4 separate regions of the Homo sapiens genome follow, and all the other regions are reported to be linked to region 2. The links are microRNA targets in miRTarBase. Many come from high-throughput screens and were not tested one by one. Region 2 holds a microRNA gene; each other region holds the end of a gene's coding sequence.

Region 1 (7,295 bases), not on the chromosome of region 2:
GAACAGTTTCTTTGGCTCTATCCTGGACTACTACCATACTGTATGGGTTTATATCTATCTATCTATCTTTGGTTCTCAAAAAATAGAAAAATAAATGAAGTCCTTTTTAGATGACAATCCATTAAAGAATGAATCACATTAATTAAAATATGATAATATTAAAACCTGATAATCTGACAATCTAAGTTGTATTTCACTACAGAAACAGTATAGAAAATAAATTCTCCATTTTCAGGACTAGGACTATGAAATCTGAAATTCTGGCTGAACATTTTAAGCATCCTTAATTCATTGATTGCCAAGAAGATATTGAGGTGGAAATGATAATATGAACAAAAGAATTAAGATGCAGTCATCTTTGGTTCACAGTATAGAGTCGAATATAAGTTGTTAACTGTCTGAAATAATGTTAACTACTTCTATGATGGATAGTTTCCTTTAAAAAATTATTATTGATGTAAGACTTAAATGGACTTGGTTTGTTATTGGATGGAGAAGCTGGCCTTCTGCATTGAGTATCTCTTAGCAGGAATGCATTCCTTTAGACCAATGTCTTACACATTGGAGGAACCAGTTTGTGGATCCTCACCACTGTTTTGTCATCTGTTCTGTGGAAAACTTTTTAAAAAAGCCAATTTTCAGACTTGTCATTCCAATTATATACTCATCAACACTTAAGAAAAATATTAAAAATCTGTCCAGTATAGCAACAGATGGTAATCTTTTTATTTCCTTTTGAATTAAAAAAAATATTATTAATGTTTATTAGTGTTTTTTGCTCAGTAAACTTTTTTTTTTTGCCAATTATCCATTAATTTCTTTTCATTATCTCTTGTGAAAAAAACAGAGCTGAAATGTGTCTCTGTACCCAATGGAAAACACCCTGACTGCTTTATCACCTTGCTGTTTAAAAACAAAAGCAACTTTTCACAGGCCGACACCTTTATTCAAGGATTATAAAAGAGAACAGAGAAATCTCTTTTGTCTTGAAATAGGAAAACTTGATCAAAGAATTAGGTATTGAAGCCTCTCTAGGTAGTGAATGTGTGAATGGGTGAGTGAATGAATCCAACAGCTTGACCTAAGAATGAAGCGTAGCAGGCTCTGAATTTTGTGCTCTCTTTGTTTCTCTGCGCAGAATTTAAGAAGAGGATTACCTCAGGTTCCTTACTTCAGTCTCTATGGAGACCAAGAAGGTGCTTATGAACATCCAGGCTCCAGCCTTTTCCCTGAGGGTCCTAATGACTATGTCTTCAGTCATCTTCCACTCCACTCTCAGCAACAAGTGCGAGCCCCTATCCCCATGGTGCCCGTTGGTGGGATCCAGATGGTTCACTCCATGCCGCCAGCCCTTTCCAGTTTACATCCTTCACCCACATTGCCCCTGCCAATGGAGGGCTTTGAGGAGAAGAAAGGCGCGTCAGGGGAGTCCTTCTCCAAGGACCCCTATGTGCTTTCTAAGCAGCATGAGAAGCGAGGTCCTCACGCTTTGCAGTCATCTGGTCCACCTAGCACTCCCTCCTCTCCTCGGCTGTTGATGAAACAGAGCACTTCGGAAGACAGCCTAAACGCAACAGAGCGGGAACAGGAGGAAAATATACAGACTTGTACAAAAGCCATTGCCTCTCTCCGGATTGCCACGGAAGAGGCAGCTCTGCTCGGGCCAGATCAGCCAGCGCGGGTGCAGGAGCCCCACCAGAACCCCCTGGGAAGTGCACATGTTAGCATTAGACACTTTAGTAGACCTGAGCCAGGTCAGCCCTGTACCTCAGCCACCCACCCTGACTTGCATGATGGTGAAAAGGACAATTTTGGTACATCACAGACTCCATTAGCTCACTCCACGTTTTACAGCAAGAGTTGTGTGGATGACAAGCAGTTGGACTTTCACAGCAGCAAGGAATTATCTTCAAGCACAGAGGAAAGCAAAGATCCTTCATCAGAAAAGAGTCAGCTACATTGATCTATGATGCATGGAGACTTTCATTTCCACATTTTCCCATTTTTTTGTTTTTGTTTTTCTAGAAATGGAGGTAATCCAGTTTATAGCATGCCTGTCCTAAGTTACAGTAGTTTGCTATTATATATACTTTTGTTATATCAAAAGAATTAGGTAAATTAACAAGTCATCATGAGCCTGACCAAAACAAAATTTGAAATTAACCTATTGGGTCTGGTACTTTTAAAATTGTACAGATGTTTGTGCCTTTTCTTTACTTTGCTTATATTCTTATAAGCATTTTTTAGCAGTAATTTGTACATATTTTAGAATTTGTGTATCTGCTTTGTAATAAATGTAATTTCTTTCCTTTTTTGGACACTTGGATCTAAATGATGTAAAGCAAAACAGCATCAATATATATGTGAGGTTGCACTAAAACATATTTTTATATGATTAAAACTGAACAGCTTTTATGTACAGCTCTGATTCTGTAATACTAATATTTATTTACTTTGTTTCATAAATTGTACATTTTTTCTTAATGTTGTGGATTGCTTTTCTATGTGAAGCATGGGATTTACTGTTGCGTAACTAGAACAAAAATGTACATTGTAAACAAGATATTTAAACTAGAGTATCTTATTCTGCACTTATGCATTAGTTAAAAAAAGATAAAGGATGTATCAGTCAGTTCTTAACTCTTGTATATTTTTTTGTCTCTTGTTTGCTGGATTGACTATAACTTAAGTGCTGATTGTGATTTTAAAATGATAGTACCGTAAAGCATTAAAGTAAACAATGTGCTATTGTGAGTTTTTTCAAAGCTTTATAAATCAGTTATAAATAATATTAAAAGTATTTGGTCTTATGTGAACATGTTGATCTATATACTCATCTAAAAATATGGGAAAACATTCCACCCCATGTAAATATGTACAAGTGCATCACTGGTACAATTTTATGTAACTCAGTTGGACACTAGGTTGCCACAGACCTATGCTAGGTGTCTTTAAAAAATTAAGGTGACAAAGCACATGGGACTGTGTAGAGCTTGGTTATCGGCCGGCCCGGTGGCTTGGCAGGCAGTGCTGTGCGCTGCTCATGGAGAAGACCTGGGCTTAGCAATCTCCTTAGTTCTTGCTACACAGGATGGTGACTGGAACTAAGGCTACACAGAGGGTCGCACTTGGACTCTGAGGGTTGGGTGTGGAAGGGGGAAAAGGAGATGGAGACCTGCTCCCCAGCTCTTCCTGTCAGCCGGTTTACATGGGAACAGGGTTAACATCTGTGTTAGGGGAGGTCACCTTACCCTTTTTCATAGGGGAAGAGTGTCACACTCCTGGCTATCTCAGGGGGAATGGGGAAAAGAATCTTTCAAGGGCAAAGAACTCGTGGGAGGATGTCTGTTGTATGTAATACTCACAATGGCTTTTGGTTAGTGTTGAAGGTGGGAAGAGCATTTGTAGGTCCAGAAGAGTGAAAGAGAGGGAGGGGTGCAGCAACATGTGCACAGGCACGCACATGTGTGCACGCACACATACAATCTGGGTTATCTTTGTGCTATATAGTGGATTATAATTCTGTGAAACCAAGTTTGTATATTGAATTACATTAAGGAGTGTTCTTTAAAAAGAGAAATAAATATACAATTACATGCTTGAGGTGTCTAGTTCTTATGTGTTGCTTTACATTTTAATTTCCCAATTTTGTTTCTAAAGTAATTTTGATACTAGCAACATACCATCTGTGCTTTTAATTGCTAGGCTCTGCCCATCCTGAGTGTGAATGCTTTTAACAAGTGAGAAGACAGTCATTGGCTTCCATAGATTATCTGATTAGAACAGATAGTGGTCACCAAGGTGTGGGCCCTAGGAATAGACTTATCCAAACCTCAGCATGGGCCTGGGCAGCATACGTTGCATCTGAACAGATTCATGAATAAAGCAAATTATCATTTTTCCTCTGCCTCTCTTGCAGTATGCATACTTATCTGAAATTCCACTGGGGAAACCTCTTCTTTCTTTTTGCTAAGGTGGCTGAAGCTAAGAATCAACTAAAATATATCAGAAGATACCCACAAATCACAGTTCTTTTATTAGAATGAGTAGAATCTTTTTAATAATAAGAGCAGAAGCTCATTAAAAGTCAAAACCTATTAGTATTTTCACTATAAAAATCTCAAATTTGTGGATTTACAATGTACCTATTTGCTTTTATGAGCCAGACTGTCTTTTTAAACTGTGTTTTACAAAGGTGATTTAAAGGTCAACACAGACACTCTAATATCTGTCTCTTACCAAGAAGAATCTTTTGATTATGTAGGGTGATTTGTGTGTCATATTCCTCATTGATGTGTGCGTGCGTGTGTGTGTGTGTGTGTGTGTGTGTGTGTGTGTGTTGGTGATCCCAGGCCAAATCAAATTACTCTGTTTCCTCCTCTACCTAATTCATCACTCATTTATTCAGTCATTCATTCATTCATAAAAGTTATTGAGTGCCAACTATGAACTGGGTACGATAGTGGGCATTTATTTTTATTTTTATTTATTTATTTATTTATTTATTTATTTATTTATTTGAGAGTCTTACTGCAGGCCAGGCTGGAGTGCAGTGGTGCTATCTCAGCTCACTGCAACCTCCGCCTCCCAGGTTCAAGTGATTCTCCCATCTCAGCATCCTGAGTAGCTGGGTCTACACGTGCATGCCACCATGGCTAATTTTTGCATTTTTAGTAGAGACAGGGTTTCACCATGTTGGCCAGGCTTGTCTCAAACACCTGGCCTCAAGTGATCTGCCTGCCTCAGTCTCCCAAAGTGCTGGGGTTACAGGTGTGAACCTAATGCTCCCAGCCTGGTGGTGGGCATTTAGAATTAATAAAGAGTATCCGTGCCACCAAGGAGCTCAAGTAAATAGGAAAGACATATATGTAAGTAAATGTGGATAATATGATGTTTGAGCTAAAATAGTTGCACATTTGGTTTTATAACCATAAAGGGAGAGAGAAATCATCCTGGAGAGAGCAATCATCCTGCTGAGAATGAAGAAAAGCTTCATCACAGAGGTAGCCTTAGAACAGATCCTTGAAACAATAAATTGACTAATTCATTCAACGTAGCTTTTCATCACCTACATTGGAGTACTCTTGTGTGTGCTAGGTGTCCAATATGGCACAAAACAGATAAAGTCCTTGCCTTAATGGAGTTTATATTCTAGAGGAGAGGGCAATATAAAAAATTAGTGGGAAAACGCATATTAGATCTGATCTGAGATGTGTAAAGCAATTAATGTGTAAAAAGCAAGATGTAGCTGGCACCCTAGGTATGTGGCAAGGTAGTACATGGTTAAGCTAGAAACACATATCAAAGTCCAATTTCCTAATCCAGCCTACAGGTCTGGCCCTGTAAGCAATGGAGAACCAAGGAAGGATTGAAGCAATAAAGTGGCCTTGCTAATTGTTGTCGTTATCATTATTTTGGGAAAAATAAAATACTGTGGCACCAGCGAAGATAAGGGAAATAAAAGCAGCAACAATCCAAACAAATGATGGAGACCTGGAGAAAGAAGGGACAGTTTTGCTTAATGAAGAGGAATGGCTGATAGCTAGACTGATTTGGTGCTGGGATGAAAGAGATGGAGAAGTTAAAGATGATGAGTTTTTAACCTGGACAATAGAATGAGGGTGGCATTATTCAGCCACAAAAGAGAGTGGATTTGTACAGAATGCTGGTAAAGAGATGAGCTTTCCTTAGCAGTTCTGAAGGAGTTCAACCTCAAACAAGAGAGGCCAGAGCTGGAGACTGGTTTGTCAGTTCTTGTTTTTCATCATAGCTGAGAGCACTGAATTGGATGAAATTCCTCAGGGTATATAAAGGGGTAGAAGAGGAAGTTTGAGGGTTTCCAAAGGTAGACAAAGAACATAGGGGCGAGCAAAGGTATACTTCACAGGACAGCACATCTCATCTGCTGAGCCTTAATGATACAAAATTGTTTAATATTTTTGAGAACTTGATTTTCAATATATTCCCCAAGATAATTTCTAGAAAACAAAACTTTTAGAACATCATTTTCTGAGAAAAAATCAACTGCATTTGTGGAATTATTTACTATTAGTTACTATTTCCTTAGTAGCATAATAGTAGCTTCATTATTAAATAATAAATTAGAGGTTATTAAATTAACCTGTCATTTACAAATATCTTTTCCAAAACCTGTAGTCTAGAGAAGTTAGGTGAAGTTTTCAAGGAGAAATAGGTGGTTCATTACAGAATCAAGGCTAAAAATGAGCTCCCACCTCTTTGTCCAGGTTTGCTTAAAGAACAGTTTCTCATTATTTATGCTCTTCTCACTTAGATCAAGATTACAATCACAATAATGTACTGTGAAAGTTGTTGGGTTGAATGGGCTCAGAATCATACAAAAACAACAAAGCTTATTTCTGCCCTGGAAATGGTCTTTATTAGTTTAAAATATATTACTAAATATGGTGGCATCGACTTTGCCACAGTACAGTTTTTTTTCCCAGGGGCAATTTGACATTATACAGAGCATCAGCTCCCATTAATTTCCGAGTGTAGAGAAACATATGCTTACCCAGACTTTATATGCAACAATAAACCAGCTTGGCTATGCAGTAGTACTGAAGAACAGGGAAAGTGGTGGAAATTATTCTACTTGGCACCGAACAGTACCTAAAGAGTAACAAGAAGAAGACACAAACTCTATTTTCTAGAATTCTCTAGATGGATCATTTTATGCATACATATCCATTGCTTATCAACAACTAAGGCCACCTTCAGAAATATACATTTGACAGGATGTATTGACTTGTGCCTGTAATTCCAGCTACTTGGGAGGCTGATCTAGGAGGATTGCTTGAAGCCAGGATTTCAAGACTAGAAATACATGTTGGTTATCAAAATGAATCATATCAACAGATTTTCTCTCCATTCACTAAGTGCCTATAAATGTATTTCAGATTCTGCAGTAGATCCCTGCCATGGATTTTTATTTTTTTGAGACAGCATCTTGCTCTGTTTCCTGGGCTGGAGTGCAGTGGCACCATCTGCAACCTCTGCCTCCCTGACTCAAAGAGACACTCCCACCTCAGCCTCCATAATAGCTGGGACCACAGGTGCCCGCCACCACGCCCAGCTAATTTTTTGTATTTCTTTTGTAGAGATGGGGATCTCACCATGTTGGCCAGGCTGGTCTAGAACTCCTGGGCTCAAGTGATCTGCCTGCCTTGGCCTCCCAAAGTGCTGGGATTACAGGCGTGAGCACCCCGCCCAGCCCCTGGCATGTTTTATTCTTCAAGTAGATTCCAAGTGTTGTTACATTGTTGAAATACAAGCAG
Region 2 (7,295 bases):
TTGTCCACCCCCTGCCCGAGGCAGGCACCCAGGAAGTGAGAGGCGGGGCAGGAATGAGGCACAACCTGTTGGGCCCGTCACCTCCCCGCCCCCCACCCTCATTCCAGTGCCCTGAGAGGGCCCCCCCACGCTGCAGCCCCACCCCCGCCGCCCTGGACGCCTGGGTCCTGACCCGCGGGTGGCCCGAGGGAGGGGACGTCGGATGGAGACTGTGTCTCGGGAACATCCTGTGGACTGCTGGCTGGACAGACGGAGGAGGGTCAGCCCCTCCCGGGGCAGGGCAGACATTGACTGGGGGCAGAGTAAACATGGCCCAGGGTGACCAGACAGGGGGCGGGCGGGGGGCTGTAGGAATGTACACACAGTCACCCCGAGAGAGCCAGTCCAGACACACAAACCCCTGTCACCTTGGCCACAGAGAGACTGCCAGCCAGGGACACACAGACAGGGTCAGACATACAGCTGGGTAAGATGATCCAGCAATGACTGTCACACATGGACACAGTGACAGACCAGACCCTCAAGCAAGAGACACACACCGTCAAACACATGAACGCATCCACTGGTCAAAAATACGCAGGCAGGCCGTGTGCGGCGGGGATAAATCAACCCAGCACATAAGCATGATAGACACAAACACACAGAGACTGACATTCAGGTGAGAGGCACACAGCAAGGCAGACACAATGGCGTGTGACACACATGGAGACAAACACAATAGGCTAGAAACATAGGGGCAAGACAGACACAGAGTGAACTATATGTGAGACAAGCAGGCAACATGTGCATGCTGATAGGAGAGACAGTCACTTTCAGCACCAGCACCCCGAGAGCCACACGAGAGATATGCAGACACAGGCATGCACTATCAGATCCTGACACGCAAGAGAAGGCAACACACACACACCCCAGATCTCCAACTCAGAAGATAGAGACAAGACAAGAGAGACAAACCTAGGGACAGAGATGATGTGTTCACAGTATGGCAGAGAGTCCCTGGCACCCTGGCCCACCACTGTTGCACACACATCAGAGATGCTCCCAGGGACACCAAGCCGAAGCCTTAGAGGTACACACCATCTCACCAGGAACACACACATGTGGGACCTGGCAACAGATTGGGTAGATCTGGGCAGACTGACACATTCACAGACATGGTCTGGCCAGACAGTCACACCCAGTGCAGAGAGGCACAGACAGGCCACAGTGGGACATTCATAAACACATCGGCACAGAAAGACCATGACAAAACCTGTTTGCACACACACACATGCACACATACAAACGGAGATCAGTAACAGGCAACATACAGATCAGCCACAGAACACACACATGGAAACAAGCCACAGACCTCACACACAGAGACCACACACACACACCAAACACAAACCAGCCACAGACCTCTTTTTCACACACACACACACACACCAGATCGTATACACACATACATACAGACCAGCCACAGACCTCTTTTTCACACACACACAAATGCACATTACAGATCGTATACACACAGACCAGCCACAGACCTCTTTTACACACACACAAACAGATCATATACACACATACAGACCAGCCACAGACCACACACACAAACACACATACACACCGACACAAGTTAGCCATAGGAACTTTGAAACAACCTACACGTACATACATCTAGACCATGTGCAACCCATCCTATAGAGCTCACACACACACAGAGTGGAACAGAACTCTACACAGATAAGCCCTACATAGACCTTTGCATCCAGGGCTGGGCACAGAAGCGGGCAGAGGGCTACTCCTGTCTCTCAGGCCTGGGTGTCAGGGTTGGACCAGCACACACTCTCACATGCACCCTATAGGCCAGTCACACGCTTGCCCCCTGGACCTTGCCAAGGTTCTGTGGGGGCACTGGACACCCCAGTCTGTCTCTGCCCCACAGAGATCCTGGCACTTCCTCTCTCCAAACATCACCCCCACTTCCCTCCCTCTTTGCTTTTGCCACTTCCCCTAGGAGGCCTAGCTCAGCAGCCTCTGCTCCTGCTGGGGTGGGGGCCTGCTATAAAGAGGTCACCCAGGGTCTTGGTGATGCCCAGGTCCCCCAAGGCTTCACCAGCAGTGGCAGGGATGGAAGCAGCTTCCTGAGAAACTCCCCTCATGCCCAACCATGTCAGCCTGGAGAGAGAGAAAGAGAGAGACTCTCCTTCCTGCTTCCAAGAAAACCTAGCAGCTTCCTCTCCAGGAGAGGGGGCAAAGGACCCCCAAACCACAGAGGTGGGAGAGGGAGGCGGCTGGTAGGCCAGGAGTTCCTGGGGGAGGGCTCCTGCCGGGCCTCAGATCCACACCCAGGGGCAGGGACACGGGAGGGAGGCTGGGTGCTGTGTGCTGCGATTTGTGGGTTCTCGCCCTGGCCTGCCCACTGGCTGACTCACAGGCAGCCCCCAGCCCAGTTTCCTAGTGAGGGCCCCACTGGTCAGTGGGGCCAGCAGGGAGGGGGGTCACCGGGCTATTTATAAGAAGGAGAAGTCCCTCGTGCCAAGACCAAAAGCCCCGAAGACACTTGTGGGTGGGGGTGGGTGAACTTCCTCCTTATCCTGTGCCCTAGGCCCCAGGCCCTGGGGCACTGGGGAAGCCTGCGCAGGGACTTCTTAGCCAGGTGCTGGTCTGGAGCCCAGGGCCTGGGCAGTACCCAGCTGCCAGTCTGGACGCTCAGGCCAGTTGGGGGAGGGGGCTGTTCTCCCACCCTCCTCGTGGGGCCGGCCTGGCGCCAGTGGGGCGGCTTGAGGGGGTGGTGCCCAGGCCACAAGGGTGACACTGGCAGAGGCCTGGAACCGGCTGTACCAGCTTGGCTGGGCCCCCGCCCTCCCTGTCTGGCCCAATCTCCACCCCGTGCTCAAACACCCATGCAGAGTGTTTGGAGGAACCCTACTCCCACATGCTGGCCTGTCCACAGAGACCCGTGCCCCTCTGTCTGTGCCCCACCACATTTCTCCCCCAATTAAAGGAGACCCTCAGTGGGGTGCGGTGGCTCACACCTGTAATCCCAGCACTTTGGGAGGCCCAGGTGGGAGGATCCCTTAGGGCCAGGACTTCCAGACCAGCCTAGGCAACAGAATGAGACCCTGTCTCAATAAAATATAAAAAAATAAAACTTAGCAGTTGTGGTGTGCTTGTAGTCCCAGTTACTCTGGAGGCTGAGGCAGGAGGATCGCTTTTACCCAGGAGTTCAGGGCTGCAGCGAGCTATGATTGTGTAGCTGAACTCTAGCCTGAGCAACAGAGTGAGATGGTCTTGTTTTGTTGCCCAGGCTGGAGTCCAGTGTCAAGATCATGGCTCATGTGATCCTCCTGCCTCAGCCTTCGGAGTAGCTGGAACTACAGGCACACCCTCCTGACCTCAGCTAATTTTTAAATTTTTTTGTAGAGATGGGGGTCTTGCTGTGTTCCCCAGGCTGGTCTCAAAAATTTCTGGGCTAGGGCTGGGCGAGGTAGATCATGCCTGTAATCCCAGCACTTTGGGAGGCTGAGGCGGGCAGATAACTTCAGGTCAGGAGTTCGAGACCGGCTTGGCCAACATGGTGAAACCCCATCTCTACTAAAAATACAAAAAATTAGCCTGGCGTGGTGGCATGCGCCTGTAATCCCAACTATTCGGGAGGCTGAGGCAGAAGAATAGCTTGAACCTGGGAGGTGGAGGTTGTAGTGAGCTGATATTGTGCCACTGCACTCCACCCTGGGCGACAGAGTGATATTTTGTCTCAAAAAAACAAAACAAAACAAACAATAAAAAAAAACTCCTGGGCTCAAGTGATCCTCCCCCTCGGCCTCCCAAAGTGCTGAGATTATAGACGTGAGCCACTGTGTTTGGCCAAAGTGAGGTTCTCTTTAAAAAAACAAAAAAAGGGCCGGGCATGGTGGCCCACGCCTGTAATCTCAGTACTTTGGGAGACTCAGGCGGGCTGATCACAAGGTCAGGAGTTCGAGACCAGCCTGACCAATATGGTGAAACCCCGTCTGTACTAAAAATACAAAAATTAGCTGGGCATGGTGGCATGCGCCTGTAATCCCAGCTACTCAGGAGGCTGAGGCAGGAGAATCGCTTGAACCCAGGAGGCGGAGGTTGCAGTGAGCCAACATCATGCCATTGCACTCCAGCCTGGGCGACAGAGCAAGACTCCATCTCAAAAAACAAACAAACAAACAAACAAACAAAACACCAAAAAAAGAGGCCCTTCATGAGACGGCCTGCAGCTGGTACTGCATACATGCTTCTCTGGTTGTCATTATTCACAACACAGTGGCTAATGCTCTGAAGCCAGACAGCTTGGATTATATCTCAACTCTAGTGCTTCTAGCTGTTGGACACCAGACAAGTTCCTTAATCTCCTGTGGCTCAGTTTCTCATCTGTTACATGGGGATACAAATAACATGCATTTTGCTGGATTGTTGGAAGCAGTCGATGACTTATTTTATGTTAACCACTTAGAAGAGTGCCTAGCCCACAGTAAGAGCCATGTAAGTGTTGGCTATTAAAATAATAATTATTATTTCTCAGCCTATCTATCTTAAGTGTTTCTGAGTCTCACTGTCTGCGTGACACTAACCTTGAACCCATTTGTCTCTCTGGGCATCTCTCCCTGCCCTGCGCCCCTGCCCCCATACACCCACTGTTCCTTGCCCTCCTCCTGGGATGGACTCTGTCTGGGATGGCCTCACCTCTCTCTAGGACTCCCTCTGGCATGGCCAGCCTCAGCCCTGGCCAGGGCTGAATTACTGTGGCCTCCTGGCTTTTGGGACCTGCAAGTTAGCTTCCCAAGGTGCTGCCCTCTGGCCTGCCCTGCCCTGCCCAACCCCCCAACGCTGCCCGCTGCGCCCCCGCGGGGCCCAGCCAGATGTCAGCTGCAGTTATTAGCCTGGGCGGGAGACACAGGCCTGGCAGTGTGCCTGCCAGACTCACAGGCCTCCGGAATCTCCCTTGAGCCTGGGGAGGGGGAGGGGAGCCATTCAAGCAAGGGGAAGAAGGGAGGGGGCATTTAGGGGTCACAGGGACCCTCCAAGGACGGGACGCCCCCAGCTTCTGCTGGGACCTTCCTCCAGCAAGGCCACTGCACTGCTGGACTTCCCCCTGCCCCCACATAGCTCAGTTTCTTTTTCGCCTCTTTCGTTTTCCTTCTCTTTCCCACACTTGGTGAGATCTAGGCTGCCCCGGAATGGCTGTTTAACCCCTATCCCTTAGCCTCTTTCTACCCTAAAGAAGAGAGAGGCTCTCTTCATCCTCCAGAAGACAGAGGCCTGGGAAGCTGAGAGAGAGAGAGAGAGACAAAGAGAGAGAGAGAGAGACAGAGACAGAGACAGAGACACTAGGCTTCTCACCTCTTGGTCTAGTGGGTTCACACACTAACTGCTCGGAAGTCCCACCTTAAGTCTAACTGGAAGCCTGACCGTCTGCACCTCGCCGCAGCCCTTCCCGGGAAGGGGCTCTGGGTTCCCTCATATTCTCCCCTTAGATTTTCAGGTCTTCTCTGACTCGGGGAGGGAAGCTCTCAGATGACAGAGCTACTCTAGGGAAGGAGGGGGGCTCCCTCTAGGTATTCTGGATGATAGTAGGATGGGACCTGCAGACTAAAACGAGAGTGGGGCCCCTGACTCACATGAGTGAGTGGGGGGTGTTGGGGACGGAGCTCCAGATCTCCTGGCAGAAGGGAAGGGCACCCCACCCGAGGGAGGAGGCAGCCGCCGTTCCAGCCCGCCCAGGCGCCGGGGGCGCCTCGAGGCATCGGCCCGCCCTCTCCGCGCCCCGTCGGGCCGGGGGCGAAGTCCGACCCAGGCCCGCGGGCAGGCGGGGACCTGCCGGGCTGGGTTGGGCCAGGCCGGGCCTGGCAGGACGCAGCCCCAAAGCGGCGGGGTGGGGCGGGGCCGGGCCAGGCGGCCGTGGGGGCCCCGGGGGCGGCGGTCGGGGCTGGTCGGGACTAGCAGTCTGGGGGCCCAGGCGCGCCCTGGGACCTGGCAGATAGTCGGGTTCCCCGCTTCTGGCTCGGGGCCCCAGGACAGCGCTGGTCCCACCTCTTCCTGTGCCCTAATATGGGCGGCGGGGAGAGACTTCGGGGGCCGGCCCGCGCTCAGTCCTGCCCGCGGACTCCCGCCTGTTGCCATGGCGACCAGGCCCCGCTCCTCGGCTGCGTCCCCCGCCGTCGGGCCAATGGAACACTCCCCAAGCCGCCTGCCTCCGCGGTCCCCTGCAGGCACCGCGGGCGGAACCATTGCTTGAGGGGAGAGGATGGTGGCTGGAGGCTGCCGCGGCTGGGCGGGCTCCAAGCACCCGGGCCTCCGCGGGGGCTCGCACGCCCAGGTTCCTCTTCCGAGGCGCAGGATGCGGCGGGACCCAGGGCGGGGCGCACGGTCCCGTAGGATCCGAGTGACGGAGACAGGGCCGGGCTCCTTCCCCCGGGGCTGTTGCCACACTTCCTGCCTCTGCGCTCTTTCCCCAGCCTGTTTCTAAGGAAGGGAGTGGGGTTGGGCGACCGCGCCCCAGCCGTCGGGCTGGGTCCAGGCTCTAGGAGCCGACACGGTGTTGGGCAAAGCCCAGGGTCAATAGGGGAGGGTTTTAGGATGGGGGACAGAGAATACAGATGACTAAGAGGTTACCATCGAGGGGGAGCAGCAGTCGTGGAAGATCCAGCAGTCCTGGTGCGCGGGACCCTCAAGGCCCCCTCCTCACATGTCAACTGAGTACCCTCTTATTGTCTTCTCTGCTCCGAAGATGTGTCCGGCCCCTTCTAACTCTCTCCTTCATCCGGGCTAGCAGATGACCCCAGTGGTCCCCAATTTCTGGCAGACATGTCTCCATCTTCTACCTGGCATATTTTACCTGCCTCAGTGTACCCCAGGCCGCTTACTAGCTTTCTGCATATCTAGACTTCCCCTAATGCCTCCTTCCCGCTTACGGGAGAGCCTCAGACTCTGGACTCAGCTCCCATGAGCTCCTGGACCCCTACTCATTTCTTGCAATTTAATGGGTCATGCAGCTCCACCCACTCACCCCTTTTGATCTCTCCCCTCCTCCGTCCTGTGAAAATTCCAGTCCCGCATCCTTCTGAGCCCGGGACCCCCAGTCAATTCCTGGGTCAGGTGTCTCCTTAACCCTCCCGATTTACAGTGCTTAACCCTCATTTCTGCTTTTTGGGGTCTCCCAATGGATTGTCAGTCCTCCTACCCCTCTCGTATTCTGGGTACCTCAGGGGTTTCTTCGCACATACTGGGACCCTCACCCCACTTGCTGCGTACCAGGTCCTGGTATTTGTCCCAGTGGA
Region 3 (7,295 bases), not on the chromosome of region 2:
TGCCTTCTCCTTTTTCCCCTTGTGCCACCCTTGTGCCCTGTTCTGTGGTAGGAGGCAGGTGGTGGGAGGGCAGGGTCCCCACCCTGTTGAACAGGGCCAAGCCTGCCTGACGGAGGCAGGTGTACCCCTCATCCACCCCTGAAAGGCACTTCCTCTGAAGCAGGAGCGGGGCTAGGGGTGCCTCTACCCAGCAGCTTTTCTCACTCTTTGGGTGGGGCCTGCTGACTCAGCACGAAAATGCTCAGCCCAAAATGCTTCAGCCCCTGGGAAGATCTGGGAGCGATGGGAGTGAGCAGAGAAGATGGGGCTTGGTAGGGTCCTGCTGGCTGCTGGGCAGAAGCCTGGGATCTCAGGGAGCAGTGTGCAGGGGCCAGGGTCAGCAAGGTTATGGGCAGCAGCTGTCCCTGAGACCTCCCAGGGGCCCCTTTGCCTGGGCAGCTGCAGGGCCTCAGCTGTCAGGCAGGCTCTGGGTGGGGAGGAGCCTAGAGCCCCGGGAAGAGGCGGGGCAGGATGGAGGAATTCAGAGCCAGCGGCAGTCCAGCTGGGTCTGAGGGCAGGCCAGCCCCTAGGCCCCTGGGCATTTCCAGGGCTGACCCACGAAAGCAGCAGTAGGCATGGTCGCTTGGGGACTGAAGACCCAGAATGACCAATGACGGTGACAGAAGGTCCCAAATGCCTGAATGCAGCTGGGAGTCTTGCCATGAACAACCATGGGTGTCTTCTGGTCTCTTTAGCCAGAAATCCCAGCACCTCTCTGTTGCCATCCCTCTTCCCTCCCCTGCCCCCAGGCCAGTCCCACCCTTTTGCCTTGTTGATCAGTGATGCTAAGTGCAAGTGCTGGCCAGAGTCCTCTCCATGGTGCGGATGTTGCCCATCCATCTCTCGGCCACCCTCCCAGCACCCAGTTCTGTGGCTTTTGACTGCAGTGACTCCCACATCTACCCCTCCAACGCCCATGTCTCACTGGAGTGCTGCTTCCAGTATTCCAATGGCCCACTTGGTGCCCCTCTTCCTCCCGACCTGCCCCAACAGACCCAGGCCCCTCCCCTGAGCCCCTCTCCCCTCAAACCACCCCTTTGCTACATGCTACCAGGTACTGAGGCTGCACCTGGGACTCCTCTTAAGTTGGTCCTTGTTGGGTGGTCAGGGTGAGGCACAGGGGGTGGGAGGCAAACCCTTCCAAGATTCTCTGGGGCAGAAAGAATCAGGTCCAAATGCCTTAGCAAGACTTCACAATCTGGCTCTGAAGCACCATTCCGGGCCCATCACTGCCTCCCTTCCCTTTCCCTCTTTTCTTTTACCCCTCTCTCGCCCTCTGTCCCTCCTCCCTCCCTCTCTTTGCCTTGTCTTCCTTCGTAAATCTAAAGCCCCTCCCCATTCCTAGGAACATACCCAAGAGAACTGAAAACAGGTGTTCACACAAAGCTTGCACACAAGCGTCCACTATTCATAATAGTCCACAAGGGGAAAAACCCGACAGTGGATGCACTGATAAAATACCGTATAGCCATACAGTGGGATCTTAGCCATAAAAAAGAATGGCGGACTGATACATGCTGCTGCAGGGACAAACCTTGAAAACATCATGCTAAGTGAAACAAACCTGACAGGCCGGGTGCAGTGGCTTACGCCTGTAATCCCAACACTCTGGGAAGCCGAGGTGGGCGGATCACTTGAGGTCAGTGGTTCGAGACCAGCCTGGGCAACATGGTGAAACCCTGTCTCTACTAAAAATACAAAAATCAGTTGGCACGGTGGCGGGTGCCTGTAATCCCAGCTACACAGGAGGCTGAGGCAGGAGAATCGTTTGAACCCGGAAGGTGGAGGTTGCAGTGAGCAGAGATCGTGCCACTGCACTCCAGCCTGAGTGACAGAGTGAGACTCTGTCTCAGAAACAAACAAAAAAACAAACAAACAAAACCTGACAGAAAAGAGCATGGGCCAGGCACGGTGTCTCATGCCTGTAATCCCAACACTTTGGGAGGCCGAGGCGAGTGGATCACCTGAGGTCAGGAGTTCTAGACACACCTGTAATCTCAGCTACTCAGGAGGCTGAACCCTGAGGTCAGGAGTTTGAGACCAGCCTGGCCAATATGGCAAAACCCTGTCTTTACTAAAAATATAAAAATCAGCCAGGTGTGGTGGCAGGCACCTGTAATCCCAGCTACTCAGGAGGCTGAGGCAGGATAATCCATCGAACCCGGGAGGCAGAGGTTGCAGTGAGCCGAGATTGCGCTACTGCACTCCAGCCTGGGTGACAAGAGCAAAACTCTGTCTCAAAAAAAAAGAGGATGTATTGTATGATTCCATTTATACAAAATGCCCAAAATAGGCAAATCTACAGAAAAGAAATTAGATTAATGATTGCCAGGGGATGGGATTAGACTGCTAATGGGTGCAGGGTTTCCTTTGGGGTGATGAAAATACTCTGGAATTAGATGGTGGCGAGGCCTGCACAACACCATGAACATACTAAAAACCACTGAATCATACACTTTAAAATGGGCATGGTGGCTCACGCCTGTAATCCCAGCACTCTAGGATGCTGAGGCGGGTGGATCACTTGAGGTCAGGAGTTTGAGACCAGTCTGGCCAAGATGGCGAAACCCCGTCTCTACTGAAAATACAAAAATTAGCTGGGCGTGGTGGCAGGCGCCTGTAATCTCAGCTACTCGGGAGGTTGAGGCAGGAGAATCGCTTGAACCTGGGAGGTGGAGGTTGCAGTGAGCCGAGATCGCGCCACTGCACTCCAGCCCGGACGACAGAGTGAGACTCTGTCGGGGTGGGGTTGGTGGAGTGAGAAATCAGCGCAGATGGCTACTCCCAGCAGTAGTGAAGCAGCAAGGCCAGGTTGAGCTGGGCCGGGTGCCCTGAGGTCAAAGGAAAGGAAACCCCAAGCCCCAGTGGCTGCAGAAGGCAGAGCTGGATGGAGGATCCGCGCCATGGCCCTGCCGGCCCCCAACCTTGGGTGCCCCTCGAGGCCCTAATTCCCTCGCTGCATTCTTGGCACCCACTTGGGTTCCCAGGAACAGCAACTAGGAGTGGCTTCTGTTCCCTCAGCAGCTCTCCCTCTCCCTCTCAGAGACTGGAACCCTAAAGGGAAGCCACGAGGCGGGTAAGGGAGGGCGGCTCCTTCTGCCAGGGCAGAGGCAGGGCAAGGGCATGGGCATGGGAGGCAAATCCTGGCAAGAGCTCGGGACTATTTCTTCAGGACCGTCTAGTTGGTGTCTCAAGGGCAGGGGCCATGACCAGATCAGGGAGAGGCCACCAAAGGGGGCTGAGGCAGACGGGCCTGACCTCCTGGGCACCCTCCCACCCTCCGTCACTGACACGCCCCCAGAGCCTGCTTGAGAATACCTGGGATGACAGATGCCTGGGGAAACTGGTGACACAGCTGAAGTGGGGTCTAGGGACGGTCAGCCAGCAGTCACTTGGCACCTTCCTGACAAGAGCAAAAAGGAACTGTCTGGTGGCAGAGGCACGCCTGCCAGACCTGTCTGCTCTGGTGTTAGCATCCCGCTTTCTCTTTGTCTGACTCTTAAATGCCTGCTCCGGCCCTCCCGGCCCTCCCAGATCATTTCCAACAGTCACACGACTGGTATCCAGGCAACCATTGCCTGGGCTCCCAAAATTCCACATCCGGAGGCTGACAAGTCATGGTGCCCCCGTGGAACACAGCTGGCTGCTTCATGTGTGGAGGAGCTGGGGGAGAACGGAAAAATCCACTCCCCACGCAGGGATGAGTTTCTAATTCTTGGCCTCAGAGGAGGTGCCTATAAAACTAATGAAATAAAACAGCTGCTCCTTGTGTTTAAAGGAAGACCTTTTACTGTACCCTGGTCAGGTCTGGGGCTCGATTCCATTTCACCGTCAGAAAGGTGAGAGGCAAAAGTTGGCCACTGTTAGGTCATCTATTTATCTCGGAGTCAAGGCATAGACACCAGCAGCTTGCTGCCCCCTTGCCCACTTCCCTGCCCTGACAGCTGGGGTTTGCCGGTCTTGGCTCTGGCATGTGAGGCAGGACAGCCTGCCAGCTTAGGGCAGGAAGCCACTCCACGTCTGGCCAGTGACAGCTTTTCCCCAGATGCCAGGACATAGGGGCATGGGACGTGCTGTGAACCCTGGAAGGCCTGACCCTGTCTGAGTGTTCTGGGCTGCAGGCAAGCCCTGGCTACTGCGCGACTTGGCAAAGCAGCTGCCACCAGGACTCCAGCTTTGGAACAGCCCAGCGAGGCGGCCCCCTCCAGATGGAGAGGTCAGGCTGGGACCACAGCATGCATGTGAGGAACTGCGCAGGGAGGCCCAGGCATGCAGCCAGTTGCTTGCTCTGCAGCCCAGCTCTAGGGCCCACCCAGTGCACCTCTGCAGCATAGAGGTCACTGGGGCCTTTGGGGGATGAGGAGTGGGGCTGAGAGTTACCCACTGGACAGGACTGGGGCTGGATAGAAACCCAGTGTGACTGACACTCTGCCTTCTCTGGACATAGGTCAAATAGGCAACATTCTTTGTCTACTACCAGGATAAAGAAAATAGAAGAAAGGGGCCGGGCGCGGTGGCTCACGCCTGTAATCCCAGCACTTTGGGAGGCTGAGGCGGACAGATCACAAGGTCAGGAGATCGAGACCATCCTGGCTAACATGGTGAAACCCCATCTCCACTAAAAATACAAAAAATTAGCCAGGCGTGGTGGTGGGTGCCTGTAGTCCCAGCTACTCAGGAGGCTGAGGCAGGAGAATGGCATGAACCCGGGCGGCAGAGCTTGCAGTGAGCCGAGATCTCACCACTGCACTCCAGCCTGGGCGACAGATCGAGACTCCGTCTAAAAACAAAATAAATAAATAAAAGAAAATAGAAGAAAGGTCAAACTCAGAAGTCACACTCAGAATTTAATTTCTCCAAAAGTTGTTTCTGTGTTTGATTCATGTAGAAAATCACAAAGCCTTCTCGCCTTTTCTGAGTGGGCGGGATCCACAGCTGGCTTACTTCTGGACACGGAGCATGGACTGAGAAGCAAGAGCTTCCTTCCAGGAGAGGCACCACTCAGAGGCAGGCCCGGCTGCACAAGTCCTCCCTGCTGGGCCTGGTCACTGCAGCTGCCCCTCCCTGGCTGGCTCCTCTCTCCTTTCCCACCCAACTGTTCACCTTGTCACAGGGCTATGTCTTGGCTCTTGGCTAAGACTTTAAGGGCCCACACAGCAGAGAACAGCAGAGGACAGAAGCCTCAGATCCTGACGACCTGCACAGCAATGCATGGGCTCTGCCTCTCTGCCCCGTCCGCTGCCGGCCTCCTAAGGTAGAGTCGGGCGAAGGTGCCTCCCACCTGCCCTTTGGTAAGGCGCCCAGGGTTCACACAGACACAGCCGAGGACATCCTGGGGAGGAGAGGAGAGGTGACAGGTTTGGAGAGCCTCAACTAACTGGGAACCAATGTGAAAAAGAAGTGCCATCACATGGCTGGACCCCAAAGAGGGTTTTAGAAAATGGAAACGAAGGCAACCAAATCACCAGACACATTTTCAGTCACTTTTTTTTTTTTTTTTTTTGAGATGGAGTCTCGCTCTGTTGCCCAGGCTGGAGTGCAGTGGTGAGATCTCAGCTCACTGCAGCCTCGACCTCCCGGGTTCCAGCGATTCTCCTGCCTCAGGCTCCCAGGTAGCTTGGATTACAGGCACCCACACCACCATGCCTGGCTAATTTTTGTATTTTTAGTAGAGATGGGGTTTTACCATGTTGGCCAGGCTGGTCTCAGACTCCTGACCTCAGGTGATCCACCCACCTCGGCCTCCCAAAGTGCTGGGATTACAATTGTCAACCACTGCGCCCGGCCTCAGTCACATATGTTAACTTGTCACTAGAAAGCTTTGAATTCCTTTTAAGTCTTTCAAACAGAAGAATGAGGTGACTTGGCAGAATGACAATCAGCTCCTAAACTTGGAGACAAACCTGATCTAGCTGTTTACTGCTTTCTCATGTGAAAAACTTTTTTTTAACCTCTTGAGATTGAACTAACTCTTGTTTGGCAAGAGGGGGACTGGTCTAGGCAGATTCCTTGTAAGGGACCTAACTCCAAGGCAGGCAGGGCTAAAGGGTGGCAGAGATCAAAATGACCCAATAGCTTCTTCAAGGTATTCCCAGCTGAGCCCACTTGGAGGTCATATCAGAATTTGGGAGGCAGAGGACAGGCAAGTGTACATATGAAATCTTCCCCAGGTCACCTCTATGTGGCCTGGTGAAAGCCCTCATTTGAGGGCCTTCCTAGTCATCTGGGCTCTCGTTCTCTTGGGGAGGGAGGAGAGGACACTGTTTACTCAAGCATTTTACTGACAGAGTTGTTTGTTTTCTGGTCCCACCACCTCCCCAAAGAAACAAGGCCACAGGGCAGGGTGCTAGAGGCCCCATCCCCATCAGCTGACCCATGAGGGGTGAGTGCCGGGTGGTCTAGAAGGGAAAGTCAAAGACTGGGTTCTGGTGTTTCTGGGAAAAAGCAGAGTTCAAACCTACCTTCACGAAGTACCTCAGCTCTGACGGGATGATGAGGACATCTGGGGTGACAGGCAGCTGTGCGTAAACATAGAACGACTCATAGTCAATGGCCATGTCTTCTTGGGGCGGGTAGAGTGGGTAGTAGCTACAGAGACAGAGAGAAATTGTCAGCACTAGCTGACCGGGGGGCCCCCTTCTCAGACAGAGTCCCCCTAGGTACTGGCTTTCGTGCTGCTGGCATCCACAGACCGACTTTTTCTCTGTGTGTGTGGGGCAGAATGCAGGCTTGTCATCACAGGGTAAAGTTCCCTGCTGGTAGCCTGGTGAAGGCTCTTACAGTCATGCTTGTCATAGCTCCATGACCCCAAGGCACTCTCTCCACAGTCAGGGGTCCCAGCGGCAAGCTCACCTCCTCTGGGTCAAGATGTGCTTGAGTATTCGGCTGAATCTGTCTGAAGTTCCGGAAGAACTGGGAAAGAAAAGAAAGCATGAAAACAGAACTCTGTTTTTCAGCCCATTTCTCTTCAGGGAGGACTGGAGAATTTAATAAACCAGAGAGAAGGTAAATGGCCAAGGCACAGCAACAAGAGGAGGATGCCTCTGGGGAAGTTTAAAGACCCACCCACAAGGAGCTCAGTCTGTCCCCACATGAGGAGGGACGCAGGACACCAGGTTGAGAAGGGAAAGCACAGGAATCCCTCATAATCAAGATCAAGGAAGGCCATTAGCCAGCACCGTACTGTGCAAGAGGATGCAAAGTTGGCACCATCATGAGGCGGGTGTGTAGCCAGGCTGACCTGAATCTCAAACCTC
Region 4 (7,283 bases), not on the chromosome of region 2:
TCCCAAGTAGCTGGAATTGCAGGCTCCCCCCACCACACCTGGCTAATTTTTGGATTTTTAGTAGAGAGGAGGTTTTGCCATGTTCAGCAGGCTGGTCTCAAACTCCTGATCTCAAGGAATCCACCAGTCTCAGCCTCCCAAAGTGCTGGGATTACAGGTGTGAGTTACTGGGCCGGGTCTAAAGTGGAATTGACCTCGGTGGCAAAGCTCTTCATCACACATCATCCTAAGTGTTGACCATCAGGCCATCAGAATGACCCTGGACTTGGGCAAAAAGGTCTCCATCCATTACCTTGAAGCCATTCCCCACCACCCTCCACTCACCCCTATGATTCCCCAGAATTAACTTCTTGCTCTCTCTCCCCAGCTGTCTGAAGACCTCGTTAAAGTTCCTCACAATAACTAACTGTGTGCTTTTGGAATCAGACTTGAAGCATCTATCCCAGTGCCCGAGTATCAGTCAACTAAAGACCCTGGACCTGAGTGGCATCAGACTGACCAATTACAGTCTTGTGCCTCTCCAAATTCTCCTAGAAAAAGTTGCAGCCACCCTTGAGTACCTGGATTTAGATGACTGTGGCATCATAGACTCCCAAGTCAACGCCATCTTGCCTGCCCTGAGCCGCTGCTTTGAGCTCAACACCTTCAGCTTCTGTGGAAATCCCATCTGCATGGCCACCCTGGAGAACCTGCTGAGCCACACAATCATACTCAAAAACTTATGCGTGGAGCTGTATCCTGCCCCCCGGGAGAGTTATGGTGCTGATGGTACTCTCTGCTGGAGCAGATTTGCTCAAATTAGGGCTGAGCTGATGAACAGAGTGAGGGACTTAAGGCACCCCAAGAGGATCTTGTTCTGTACTGACTACTGCCCTGACTGTGGCAACAGGTCATTTTATGACCTGGAGGCAGATCAATACTGCTGTTGAATGCCTGCCTATTTGGATGGGTATGTCAAACGCTTTCTTCTGGACACTTGGAAACTAAAACCTAGGTCTTAGGTACATCCTAAAGGGAGCACAGAACCCATCATTTCACACATAGGCTCTGAAAGTGGGAAAGGAAAGCTGATCAAGCAGGGGCCGGACTTGGGGGAAATGTTGCCATGGATTCGATGGGACTTTGGGGACCTGTGTCCTGTAGAGTCGAAAATGGGAATCTGAATGTCTAGAGTGGAATTCAGGCTTGAGAATACATGAGGGAGTTACTCTTGCATGGATGGTTGTAAAGAAACAATCAGAAATAAAGGAAAACTGAGCAGAATCTGTCTGGTGCCCTCTATTATTAAGTAACCTGTTTTCCAGTTTAAGCCTCAGGAATCTTCAGTTATTGATGGAAAAAACAAAAGGCACTGACTGAGTTGTCCAATCAATAAGATGCAGCCCAAGAAAATCAAGGCATTTAAATGAAATTTGGTTATTGTAATCAGTTTCCTCCCATTCTTTTATTGGAGACAGAGTTTCACTCTTGTTGCCCAGGCTGGAGTTTAGAGTGCAATGGTGCCATCTGAGCTGACTGCAACCTCCACCTGGGGTTTAAATGATTCTTCTGCCTCAGCCTCCCAAGTAGCTGGGATTACAAGCATGCACCACCATGCCCAGCTAATTTGTGTATGTTTAGTAGAGACAGGGTTTCCTCACTATGTTGGTCAGGCTGGTCTCAAACTCCTGACTTTGGGTGATTCATGCAAGTAGGCCTACCAAAGTGCTGGGGTTACAGGTGTGAGCCACTGTGTCAGGCTTTTTTGTTTGTTTGTTTTTTAAAGGTCTCCTGTCACTCAGGCTACAGTGCAGTGGCACAATCATACCTCACTGCAACCTCAATTTCCGGGGTTCAAGCGATCCACCCACCTCAGCCTCCTGAGTAGCTATGACTACAGCTGTGTGAGCCACCACACCTGGATACTTCTTTTTAGTAGAGACAAGGCCTCGCTGTCTTCCCCAGGCTGATCTGGAACTCCTGAGCTTGTGATTCTCCTGCCTTGGCCTCCCAAAATGCAGGGAGTATAGGCGTGGACCACCACGCTTGGCTTGGCCTCCTCCAGTTCTTCACTTCTTTAGATGTCTGTTAACTCCTTGTTAGTTTCTGTGGCTGTTCAGTGGGTTAATACACACTAGGTGGACACCAAAGGCCTGGAACATTGCTGGGCAAGAACAGTGAGCCAATCCACACGGAAAGCACCTTCTTCTCAGGGTCTTTCACCGCTATCCAGATGCTGAGACCCTGCCCACTCCCTGTGAGTCTCCACATGCTTCCAGAAGCCTTAGTTGGTGGATGTCAGCTTCACTGCACAAGGAGCCACTCTCTTCCCGCTGCCCTGGAAGGGGATGTCCATATTGTGTATTAGCTGGAGACTCTGGGCAGCATCAACCCTTGCTTGTTCTCCTGATGACCAGCAGCCCTTCTTGAATTAAACTGGTTGTAGCCAGTAAAGACAGCCACATTCCCTTTAAGTAAAATACTAAAACTATACAGGCATATAACACTTTTTAAATATTTCCATCTGACATTTTAAAAGTTACATCTTTTGGGGGAGCTAGGTCAGATTGATGAGAGATTTTCTCATAACACCTCCCCTCTCTCCCTATGAAGGAAGAGACTAGTGCAGCGTGTTCTGGAATCTGACAGCATCAAAGGGTGGATAACGATCAAGGGCCTGTGGGTGATGAGTGACCTTCCCTGTGCTGAGGAATTCTGCATAATGGGCACCCAAGTGAAGGATCCTGCTGTGTACTCAGGGGCTGGTGTTGCTGTCAGGGATGTTAGCCTAGAGCCTCAGCTTCCTGTAAAATGAGGATGATGATGTCCAACAGCTTATGGGACCTTGGTAGGATCCAATGAGATGGTTCATGTTTAGGGCTTGGCATGGGGTCTGGCATACAGTAAGATCAATACATCTTGTTCTTTTTTCTCTTCTCAGCAGAAGTCCCAGCACTTTTCATCTTTCAATCTCACCTCCTTTTCCTGATAATAGAGAGGCAACAAGAACTCAGGGCATGCAATGGGGCTCAACTTCTACTCTCTGCCACAATTTCATCATGATTGCCCCAAAGAGCAGAGCCCCAGGAGCCAGCAGGGGGCAGGGTGGGCATTTCTGGACTGGATTCATTCATAATAAGATCAAAATTTCCAATCCGTATGTCTCGGGTGCCATCTGCTGATAGATCCGACCAGATGGTATAATTGAGTGTTGCAAGGATTATATTTTATGGTGTTTTTAAAAATGTACTATTATGAGCCAGGTGCAGTGAGTCATACCTGTAATTCCAGCACTTTGGGAGGCTGAGGCAGGTGGATCACCTGAGGTTGGGAGTTTGAGACCAGCCTGAGCAACATGAAGAAAACCCTTCTCTACTTAAAATACAAAAAATTAGCCAGGCGTGGTGGCGCACGTCTGTAATTGCAGCTACTCGATAGGCTGAGGCGGGAGAATCATTTGAACCTGGAGGTGGAGGTTGCGGTGAGCTCAGACTGAGCCATTGCACTCCAGCCTGGGCAACCCTAGCAAAACTCCGTCTCAAAAAAAAAGATAAAATAAGATTTATTATTATGGCCGGGCATGGTGTCTCACACCTCTAATCCCAGCACTTTGGGAGGCCAAGGCAGCCTCAGGATTTTGAGACCAGCCTGGCCAACATGGTGAAACCCCATCTCTACTAAAAATACACAAAATTTGCTGGGAGTGGTGGCATTCGCCTGTAATCCCAGGTATTCAGGAGGCTGAGGCAGGACAATCACTTGAACCCGGGAGGTGAGGGTTGCAATGAGACGAGATGGCACCACTTCACTCCAGCCTGGGCGACAGAGCATGAAAAAAAATTTACTATAATGTGAATACTATTAGAGTATAAATATTTGTGTTGTAATTTATGTATATGAAAGATTAGAACTTTTAAAGAATGCAACGTGATATTTCAAGAATGGTTAATGGCCAGGTGTGGTGGTTCATGCCTGTATTCCTGGCACTTTGGGAGGCCGAGGTGGGCAGATCACGAGGTCAGGAGTTCCAGACCAGCCTGGCCAACATGATGAAACCCCGTCTCTACGAAAAATACAAAAAATTAGCCTGGCGTGGTGACAGGTGCCTGTAATCCCAGATAGTCAGGAGGCTGAGGCAAGAGAATCGCTTGAACCTGCGAGGCAAAGGTTGCAGTGAGCCAAGAATGCACCACTGCACTCCAGCCTGGGTGAAAGAGGAAGACTCCGTCTCAAGGAGGGTGAGAAAAAGAATACTTAACTTGGTTTGAAATGTCAAAACAAATGAGATTTTAAAAACTAATTTTAAAGACACTGAACAATAATCATTTCTTCTTTAAAATATATTTAGAATAATACAATTTTAGCTTTGAAAGGAAACATTACAGTTTTAAAAAATATTGAGTTTATTTTATTTTATTTTATTTTATTTTATTTGGAGACAAAGTCTCACTCTGTTGTCCAGATTGGAGTGCAGTGGCATGATCACGGCTTACTGCAGCCTTGACCTCCTAGGCTCAGGTGATCTCCCTGCCTCAGTCCCCCTAGTAGCTGGAACAACAGGCATGCACCATCATGCCTGACTTATTTTTGTATTCTTAGTGAAGACCAGGCTTCACCATGTTGCCCAGACTGGTCTTGAAATTCTGGGCTCAAGCGATCCACCTGCCTCGGCCTCCTAAATTGCTGGGAGTGAGTTCCTATAGGCATGAGCCACCGCACCCAGCCTTGAGTTTATTTATTTATTTATTTTGGAGATGGAGTCTCCTTCTGTCATCCGTGCTGGAGTGCAGAGGTACGATCTCTGTTCACTGCAACTTCTGCCTCCAGGATTCCAGCAATGCTCCTGTCTCAGCCTCCAGAGTAGCTGGGATTACAGGCATGCAACACCACACCTGATTAATTTTTGTATTATTATTATTATCAGTTTTTAGTAGAGACAGGGTTTTGTCATTTTAGCTAGGCTGGTCTGGAACCCCTGATCTCAGGTGATCCACCTGCCTCGGCTTCCCAAAATGCTATGACTATAGACGTGAGCCACCACACCCAGCCTATTTTTTCCTTTACAGCAGTTTTAGATTCACAGAAAAACTAAGCAGAAACTGCAGAGTTCTCATCTACCTTCTTCCCCCTTCAATACACAGCACCCCCACAGGATCAGCACCCACACCAGCACAGAGCATTCATCACAACCAATGAGCCACAGGGACACATCATTATCACCCAATGTCCATAGTTCACATGAGGGATCATTGCTGGTTTTGTACATTCTATGGATTTTAACAAAGGGATAATGACATGTATCCACCATTAGAGCATCATGGAGAGTAGTTTTCTTTCCCTAAAATTCCTCTGTCCTCTTCCCATTCATCCCATTGTGCTCCCAACCCCTTGCATCCACTGGGCTTTCTACTGTCTCCTTAGAAAAATGCAAAAGCTTTTTCTGGAATGTCTAACAGGATGAGTCTTTTCAGATTGCCTTCTTTCACTTGTACAATAACGTGCATTTAGGAATTTTTCATGTCTTTTTACAGCTTTATAATAGTTCACTGACTGGATGGATCAGTTTGCTTATCCAGTCACTGACCGAAGGGCAACTTGCTAGCTTCCAAGTTTTGGCGATTATGAGTAAGTTGCTGTAAACATCCAGGTGTGGGTTTACTCACTTCATTAAATATCCAGGAGCATGATTACGGAATTGTAGGGGTATGGTATGTTTTACAATGATTTCTTCTTTCTTGACAATCTCACTTGTTCGATATTGCTGCTAAAGGTCAGGAACTTTGTCTCCATCATCCTGTGTTCCCACTGCTGAGCATGGAACGTGGCACTTGGTAGCAAATGCTGTTGACCACGTGATGCATGGAAACGTTTATCATGGGTATAGTCACTAAATTGCTACCTTGGGGACATCAACATTAGCTCACTACCAATAATATAAATAAATTGGATTATGGAAAAAAATGGCCCTTGTGATACTGTGGATACTCCAGGTGTATCATGAACGTCCAGCAATTGACCAGGCACAGTGGCTCACATCTGTAATCCCAGCACTTGCAGAGACTGAGGTGGGTGGATCACTTCAGTCAGGAGTTCAAGACGACTCTGGCCAATATGATGAAACCCTGTCTCTATTAAAGACACAAAAATTAACTAGGGGGTTGAGCCAAGATGGCCGAATAGGAACAGCTCCAGTCTACAGCTCCCAGCCTGAGCGGTGCAGAAGACGGGTGATTTCTGCATTTCCAACTGAGGTACCAGGTTCTTCTCACTGGGGAGTGTCAGAAAGTGGGTGTAAGACAGTGGGTGCAGTGCACCGAGCATGAGCCAAAGCAGCGTGAGGCATTGCCTCTCCTGGGAAGTGCAAGGAGTCAGGGAATTCCCTTTCCTAGTCAAAGAAAGGGGTGACAGATGGCACCTGTAAAATCCGGTCACTCCCACCCTAATACTGCACTTTTCCAACAGTCTTAGCAAATGGCACACCAGGAGATTATATCTCGTGTCTGGCTCAAAAGGTCCTATGCCCACGGAGCCTCACTCATTGCTAGCACAGCAGTCTGAGATCAAACTGCAAGGCGGCAGCAAGGCTGGGGGAGGGGCGCCTGCCATTGTTGAGGCTTGAGTAGGTAAACAAAGCAGCCAGGAAGCTGGAACTGGGTGGAGCCCACTGCAGCTCAAGGAGGCCTGCCTGCCTCTGCAGACTCCATTTCTGGGGGCAGGGCATTGCCAAACAAAAGGCAGCAGAATCCTCTGTAGACTTAAATGTCCCTGTCTGACAGCTTTGAAGAGAGTAGTGGTTCTCCCAGCACGCAGCTGGAGATCTGAGAATGGACAGACTGACTCCTCAAGTGGGTCTGTGACCCCTAAGTAGCCTAACTGGGAGGCACCCACCAGCAGGGGCAGACTGACACCTCACATGGCCAGGTACTCCTCTGAGACAAAACTTCCACAGGAATGATCGGGCAGCAACATTTGTTGTTCACCAATATCCACTGTTCTGCAGCCTCTGCTGCTGATACCCAGGCAAACAGCTTCTGGAGTGGACCTCCAGCAAACTCCAACAGACCTGCAGCTGAGGGTCCTGACTGTTAGAAGGAAAACTAACAAACAGAAAGGACATCCACACCAAAACCCAGTCTGTACATCAGCATCATCAAAGACCAAAGGTAGATAAAACCACAAAGATGGGGAAAAAGCAGAGCAGAAAAATGGGAAACTCTAAAAATCAGAGTTCCTCTCCTCCTCCAAAGGAACGCAGCTCCTCACCAGCAATGGAACAAAGCTAGAGGGAGAAGGACTTTGATGAG

The links. The annotated mature microRNA hsa-miR-5684 reads AACUCUAGCCUGAGCAACAG and lies in region 2 at 3,245-3,264, shown strand. An mRNA with a match to its seed (bases 2 to 7 or 8) in the 3' UTR can be bound and repressed. Matches are read on the target gene's strand: a 7mer-m8 pairs with bases 2 to 8, a 7mer-A1 pairs with bases 2 to 7 and ends in A, and an 8mer does both.
Region 1: miRTarBase lists HIVEP2 as a target of hsa-miR-5684. Seed matches in the 3' UTR shown: 8mer at 2,572-2,579.
Region 3: the mRNA of POLA2 is a reported target of hsa-miR-5684. The part of its 3' UTR that is shown has no 7-base or 8-base seed match.
Region 4: miRTarBase lists PRAMEF4 as a target of hsa-miR-5684. Seed matches in the 3' UTR shown: 7mer-m8 at 1,168-1,174.

Annotation. Positions count from the first base shown.
Region 1 is chr6:142,747,775-142,755,069 of GRCh38, reverse strand. It overlaps HIVEP2 (HIVEP zinc finger 2), which reads left to right. Exons shown (of 10, transcript NM_006734.4): 10 at 1,139-3,601. The coding sequence ends at 1,963. Among named protein-coding and RNA genes, the nearest start is that of HIVEP2, 190 kb to the left of the region's middle.
Region 2 is chr19:12,783,888-12,791,182 of GRCh38, forward strand. It overlaps MIR5684 (microRNA 5684), which reads left to right and starts at 3,241; the gene lies at 3,241-3,305. It also overlaps a transcript of HOOK2 not described here. RefSeq lists cis regulatory regions at 564-1,084, 5,944-6,464, enhancers at 1,264-1,383, 4,688-5,257, 6,162-6,661, 6,962-7,295 and a silencer at 5,708-6,477.
Region 3 is chr11:65,295,196-65,302,490 of GRCh38, reverse strand. It overlaps POLA2 (DNA polymerase alpha 2, accessory subunit), which reads right to left. Exons shown (of 18, transcript NM_002689.4): 16 at 6,892-6,951; 17 at 6,501-6,627; 18 at 3,806-5,371. The coding sequence ends at 5,222. LOC105369344 (a long non-coding RNA gene) reads left to right here. Exons shown (of 3, transcript XR_007062727.1): 3 at 6,867-7,295. Among named protein-coding and RNA genes, the nearest start is that of CDC42EP2, 16 kb to the left of the region's middle. RefSeq lists enhancers at 112-648, 649-1,186.
Region 4 is chr1:12,873,190-12,880,472 of GRCh38, reverse strand. It overlaps PRAMEF4 (PRAME family member 4), which reads left to right. Exons shown (of 4, transcript NM_001009611.4): 4 at 368-1,261. The coding sequence ends at 929. Among named protein-coding and RNA genes, the nearest start is that of PRAMEF4, 9.4 kb to the left of the region's middle.